2 linked regions of the Homo sapiens genome follow. The protein of the gene in region 2 interacts with the protein of the main gene of each other region in a pairwise test. Each region holds a gene or a part of one and is shown on either strand. Other genes may lie near its edges.

The links. Proteins that work in one complex are often made in the same cells at the same time.
Region 1: the proteins of ZNF76 (region 2) and KCTD9 interact in binary tests that used the Homo sapiens proteins (3 or more experiments, as listed by UniProt).

The regions. Positions count from the first base shown.
Region 1 is NC_000008.11:25,451,674-25,455,433, reverse strand, and holds part of KCTD9 (BTB/POZ domain-containing protein KCTD9), read left to right. Parts: intron 1-1,858; exon of another isoform or gene 1,859-1,890; intron 1,891-3,760. UniProt on the Homo sapiens protein: Substrate-specific adapter of a BCR (BTB-CUL3-RBX1) E3 ubiquitin-protein ligase complex, which mediates the ubiquitination of target proteins, leading to their degradation by the proteasome.
Region 2 is NC_000006.12:35,276,735-35,280,234, reverse strand, and holds part of ZNF76 (zinc finger protein 76), read right to left. Parts: intron 1-3,500. UniProt on the Homo sapiens protein: May be involved in transcriptional regulation.

The DNA.
Region 1 (3,760 bases), on a different chromosome or scaffold from region 2:
TATTAATAATCAGCCTCTCCCTAAGTGTATGTTATTCTTTGAAATATTAGCCATTGATAGGATGAGTCATCCTAGTTAGCAAGATATTTAGAAATAAGTTCTAGTGCATGAAGACAAATGGCTTCAGATTTTTTTCTTTTCTGATTTTTTGGTTTTTGTTTGTTTTTTACTTTTATTTATTTATTTATTATTTATTATTATTATTTTTTGAGACGGAGTTTTGCTCTTCCACCCAGGCTGGAGTGAAGTGGCGTGATCTCAGCTCACTGCAACCTCTGCCCCCCAGGTTCAAGCGATTCTCCTAACTCAGCCTCTTGCTTAGCTGGGATTACAGGGGCTTGCCACCATGCCCTGCTAATTTTTGTATTTTTAGTAGAGACGGTTTTCACCATGTTGGCCAGGCTGATCCTGAACTCTTGACCTCATGTGATCCACCTGCCTTGGCTTCCCAAAGTGCTAGGATTACAGGCGTGAGCCACCATGCCCGGCTTATTTTAATGTTTAAAGTCAATCCTGTATTTGGCAGAATTTCACTAAATTTAATGATAAATATTTAGGAGATTCTTAGTGGCTAATTCATAGTCTGAGTCACTGAAAGTCCTCATCATTTGGGAAAACATGTACTTTCTAACAGTGGAATGTAGTTCATAAATACATAAATATACAGATGTTTGAGTACATGCCCAAAAGTATGTTACCAATGGGGTGTGTGGTCAGAAACATTTGAAGGCCTTAGTTCTAATCACTGGAATCTTTGGTTTAAATTTTGAGGGTTTTTTTTGTTTTTGTTTTTTAAAACTGCTCCGAAAGAGTCAGTTATGTTGTTTGTACCTGTCATCCTTTTTCCATGTGCCTCAACATTTTCGTTATTCTTTTTAATATTCCCTGTAAGAGTTGGCATTAAGGAAATTGAAATGGGGACTTGCACATCTGCATGCAGTGTGTGGCTTCTGAGCAACTTAATGTCAGTGCAGAGTTTCTATACGTCTTGAACACAGAGTGCTTTTTTTACTTCAGAATATTCAATAATGAGCTGTGCAAGTCCTAGGCCTTTTGTATACTGATTAATTCATCATTCATTCATTCATTCATTCAGTGAACACTTAGTAAATGCCTTCTGAGTATGTGGCATCATGCCAAACATGGCAAACAGGGTAGGAAATACTTTCATTCTGTACCGTGTTTTCATTCTTGGTCCAAGAAATAACTTTTCTTCAGGTTTTGGTATTAGGTCAGAAACATGTTGGGGGCAGGCACAATGGCTCATGCCTGTAATCCCAGCACTTTGAGAGGCTGAGATGGGAGGATTGCTTGAGTTCAGGAGTTCAAGACCAGCCTGGGCAACATAGTGAGATCCCATCTCTAAAACAACAACAACAACAAAGAATGAAAAAGAAATATGTTGTTAGTAGTAAGTATCCAGGTTTGAATCCATTACGTTGTTAGAGTTGGAGAAAGGTGAAAATTTATCTGAACCTCTGCCTCTGAAGGCTAAACATTAATAAGAACCTAGTGAGGGCCCACTTTTTAAGCTTGAACATTTCTTAATATATTTGATACATAGAAAAGAATACAATAAAGAATATACATAAAAAGAGGAACATAATATAGCAAACATCTGTAAATCTGCCAGATAACCCAAGAAGTAGCATGTTATCAATAACATAATGTGTTTATCCACGTTCCTGTACTCCTGTTTTGTTTTTCTCTTTGCCGTGTGTTTTTAAATAGTTTTGTCACATATATATGCATAACTAAATTACCTTTTTTTTTTTTTTTTGAGTCGGAGTCTCACTCTGTCGCCCAGGTTGGAGTGCAGTGGCATGATCTCTGGCTCAATACAACCTCCGCCTCCCGGGTTCAAGCAATTCTCCTGCCTCAGCCTCCCAAGTAGGTGGGATTACAGGCGCCCGCCACCATACCTGGCTATTTTTGTGTTTTTAGTAGAGACAGGGTTTCACCATATTGGCCAGGCTGGTCTCAAACTCCTGACTTCGTGATCCGCCAGCCTCAGCCTCCCAAAGTGCTGGAATTACAGGCTTGAGCCACCGTGCCCGGCCCTCACCTTTTTTTTTTTGAGACAGAGTCTCGCACTGTCACCCAGGCTAGAGTGCAGTGGCGCGATCTTGGCTCACTGCAACCTCTGCCTCCTGGGTTCAAGCGATTCTCCTGCCTCAGCCTCCTGAGTAGCTGGAATTACAGGCACGTGCCACCACTCCCAGCTAATTTTTGTATTTTTAGTAGAGATGGGGTTTCACCATGTTGGTCAGGCTGGTCTCGGCTGACCTCCTGATCTGCCCGCCTCAGCCGCCCAAAGTACTGGGATTACAGGCGTGAGCCACTCTGCCTAGCCACTAAGTTACATTTTTAAAAAATCAGCTTCGGGACATACGGTATCTCAAATTGATATTATACTGTATATAGTTTTTTGTGGAGACAATGTCTTCCTATATTGCCCAGACTGGTCTCAAACTCCTGGCCTCAAGCAGTCCTCCTTCCTCAGTCTCCCAAGGTGCTGCGACTACAGGCATGAGCCATCATGCCAGGCCAGTCCTTGCTTTTTTCGTTCAATATAATTCTCTTCCAACCATAATATCTGACATAGTGATAATTTATTCATTTTTACTGCTTTATTAAAGTACATGTTATACAAATACTACCATGATATTCCTGTCAGTGGACATTAGGTTGTTTATTTTCTTTATATTTTGTTGTTAAATTGACAGTGCTGTCATGAATATTTCTGTATATGTATCCTGGCACACAGCAGCAAGCATTTTTCTAGGGAGGTAGTTAATCAAACTTTAGCATGCATCAGAGTCACTTGGAGGAGGAGGAGGACTTGAGAAAACTGCTGGACTTCATCCCCAAAGATTAATATTCAGTAGGTCTGGGGTGGGGTAGGAATGTACATTTTTAATTTGCAGGTGAAATGTGGTTCAGATGCTGCAGGTGACAGGATCACACATTTGAGAACCACCACTCTAAGGTATAGACACATAGTTGTAATTATTGGGTGTTAGAATATGTAAATATTCAGTTTTGCAAAATAATGCCAGATTGTTTTTCAAAGTCATTGCAGTAATTTATATTCCCACCACCATTGCATAAATCTTCCCTATTGGTCCACATCCACTCCAACACTTGATATTACCAGTATTTTCCATTTTAAAATTTTCTTTTTTCACCTTAGAGTTAATTATCTCATCTTTTTTTTAAATTATCTCATCTTTTAAAGAATAAGATCATGTAAATATTTAAAATGTATTTGACTAAAAGTATAGGTAGAGAAAATTGAGTTCTGTATTTAGTTACTAGTGGTGATTAGTGGTTTTGTTGGGTAAATCAGCCTGCATAAATTCAACAATTTATGTGTATTGTATATTACATAATGCACAATAAATACTTGTGTATTTATCATAACAACTTTTTGCAAATTAATTTTTTTATTGGACCTTTAGGATCCAGGCAGACAGCCAGATTAGAAAATATTTAGTGATATGGTAAATTGTTTTTGATACTTTATTAGGATTGATTAAAGTGGCAATAAAAGTTGAATTCAAATACACAAATACTTGTGTATTTATTGTGTATTATGTAATAAATCTTGTGGGTATAAAAGAAAAAAATATTTTACATGCATGTGCAGGTTTTAATTTTTAAATTTAAATAATACAGGTTACAATTTGAAAATGGTGTTTAAAGGTAAATTAAAACTAGCCAATCGTACTAGGCATGGTGTTCCATTTACTCTCCAACT
Region 2 (3,500 bases):
TCATGTTTATGCTGTCAGGGTGAATTTAAAAAAAAAGCTCTCTTCCCACTATCTTGGAGCCTGTAGAGGCCTGCTGAGAACAGGACTTCCAAAAGGCAAATATGGGCGGGGTGTAGTGGCTCATGCCTGTAATCCCAGTGCTTTGGGAGGCTGAGGCAGGAGGATTATTTGAGGCTAGGAGTTCAAGACCAATGTGGGCAACACAGCAAGACATTGTCTCTACAAAAAAAAAAAAATTAGCCAGGTGTAGTGGCACATGCCTGCAATCCTAGCTACACAAGAGGCTGAGGTGGGAGCACTGCCTGACCCCAGGAATTTGAAACTGCAGTAAGCTTTGATCATACCACTGAATTCCAGCCTGGGTGATAAAGAGACTCTGTCTCAAAAATAATAATAAGATAAATACAATACATTTGGAAGGCTGTAGTCCAAGGCCATTTTTTGCTAGCTGTAAGTGGGGCCTCCAGAACCAAAGCGAGGACACAGCTCTTATTAAAATTGAGGTATTGGCCAAGTGCGGTGGCTCACGACTGTAATCCCAGCACTTTGGGAGGCCGAGGACAGTGGATCACGAGGTCAGGAGATTGAGACCATCCTGGCTAACATGGTGAAAACCCATCTCTACTAAAAATACAAAAAATTAGCCGGGCGTGGTGGTGGGCACCTGTAGTCCCAGCTACTTGGGAGGCTGAGGCAGGAGAATGGCATGAACCTGGGAGGTGGAGCTTGCAATGAGCCAAGATCGCGCCACTGCACTCCAGCCTGGGCGACAGAGCGAGACTCCGTCCCAAAAAAAAAAAAAAAAAAAAAAAAAAATTGAAGGTATTTATGCTCGAAATGAAACTAATTCTATTTAGGCAAGAGATGTACTTACATGTATAAAGCAAAGAACAACACACTGACTGCTGGCAGCAAACTGAAGAAAACCAGCATAATCTGGGGAAAGGTAAACTCAGGCCCATGGAAACAGTGGCATGGTTTGTGCTAAATTCCCAAGCAATCTTGCTAAAGCTATTGAACACAGAATCTGTGTGACGCTGTGCCCCTCAAGGACTTAAGCTAATGAAAAGTAAATAAATAAAAGTAGATTTATAAGAAAAAAAGAGTACAAATCTAAACATACCACTTCCTTGACTAAAACCCTTCCATAGTTTCCTACAGCTCTTAGAGTCCACCTTGCATACAAGGCTGGGTTGTTATAAACTCCCACAGCCTAGGTACCACCTTTTCCTAGCACTCACACCTCTGGGCTCAACCTACTTCAGTACTCATCACTATCTGTTTAATGTCCGTTGCCTACACAAGGCTTTGGGCTCTAGCCTGGTTTCTGCGTCACAGTGGTTTCTCCAGCAACTCACACTGTGGGCTCTCCACACATCCTGTGAGTGACTCCCTGGGTCCCTCATGTGCAAGGTGGGAAGCACTGAAGCTTCCTGCTGGCAGGATATCTTCTGTACCCACTGTGGTGTGCAGCCTGCTCTAGCAGTGGACCCCAACACTTGTGAAGCCTGCAGGAAGCCCACGGCCTCTAAACTCAGTGCAGTCGTGAAGACTCTCTTTGACATCCATTCTCAAAATTCTCCTGGACTTGGAATCTGGACTGCCTACTGGATTCTCACGACTTACCAACCGATATCTTTGACTGGTGCTACCCAAACTGTTTTCATGTCAGGGGACCTAGAGAGACAGATATTTGTACATTGCATTGCAGATGCTGCTGCTTAAAGTCAGAAGTTCACATTGCAGATGTCACTGCTTCAAGCCAGAAGCGACCAACTGGGGCTTTGACAGCCCTGAGGGGCGAGCGGATCAATATCTTGGCAAAATTATAGACCATCCAGGAGTTCGAGACCAGCCTGACTAACATGGAGAAGCCCCGTCTCTACTAAAAATACAAAATTAGCTGGGCATGGTGGCACATGCCTGTAATCCCAGCTACTTGGGAGGCTGAGGCAGGAGAATTGCTTGAACCTGGGAGGCAGAGGTTGCGGTGAGCCGAGATCGTGTCATTGCACTCCAGCCTGGGCAACAACAGCGAAACTCCGTCTCAAAAAAAAAGAAAAAAACAAAACAAAAACTGGCTGGGCGTGGTGGCTCACACCTGTAATCCCAGCACTTTGAGAAGTTGAGGCGGGCAGATCACAAGGTCAGGAGATCCAGACCATCCTGACTAACAGGGTGAAACCCTGTCTCTACTAAAAATACAAAAAATTAGCCGGGCGTGGAGGGCGCCTGTAGTTCCAGCTACTCGGGAGGCTAAGGCAGAAGAATGGCATAAACCTGGGAGGCGGAGCTTGCAGTGAGCCAAGACTGCACCACTGCACTCCAGCCTGGGCGACAGAGTGAGACTCCGTCTCAAAAACAAACAAACGAAAAACCCAAAAAAACCTATAGACCAACTGCGACACGCTGATTGGAATGCTCTACCCCAGGCATGGCATCTCAACTAGAATTATTCATTCATTCTGTCCATAAACATTTACTAAATGGGCTAAGGTGCAAGGGCAGCAATACTATTATATAGTGAACACTACTATAGAGTTAACCACGTGCTAGGAATGTCACATACATTAACTCATTTAGTTCTAACAATCCTACAATCAAATGCTATGATTATCCTCATTTAAAAGTGAGGGAACTGGAGGCCCAAGACCAAGTTAAGTAACTTGCTCAAGGTTACACAGCTAACTAGTAAAGGAGGATTTCACCCTAGGCCATTTAATCCAGAGTGTGACCTTAATTACTATGCTGCGAAGCACAGAGGTGAAGCTGGGGGTTTATGAAACTTGAAGCTACTCCAAAATACTTTTTTGGTGTGTGAGCCTTTGCATTTTCCAGGAGAGAGGGAAATCCAAGGCTGTCATCAGGGTCTGATAGGGATTAATGGTGAAGAACCACTGGTCAAGGTGGGGATTCTGACATCTGACATCTCTGGTCTATTAGCATCCTTGCCCAGAGCCCTGATAACCTCCACGTGGTCCCTGTCTCACAAGAGCTCTGCTCCTGGCCTCTCTTGGTCTGCTCTGACCTTCAAGCTTCACTCTCTTCATCAGGTAGATTCTTTGGGTAACCCGCTTTAGTGTAACTGCACTGTGTCAGAAGACACATAAGAGAAACCAGGTCTAAAAACAAAGCAGGCTGGGCACGGTGGCTCATGCCTGTAATCCCAGCACTTTGGGAGGCCGAAGTGGGCGGATCACTTGAGATCAGGAGTTCGAGACCAGCCTGACCAACATGGTGAAACCCCGCCTCTGCTAAAAAAAAAAAAAAATACAAAAATTAGCCAGGTGTGGTAGCACATGCCTAGCTACTTGGGAGGCTGAGGCAGGAGAATTGCTTGGACCCAGGAGGCGGAGGTTGCAGTGAGCCAAAATTGCATCACTGCACTCTAGCCTGGGCAACAACAGCAAAACTCTTGTCTCAAAAAAAAAAAAAAAAAAAAACCCATAAATAAATAAATAAAAATAAAAACAAAGCAGACATAGGTTGAAAAGGGATTG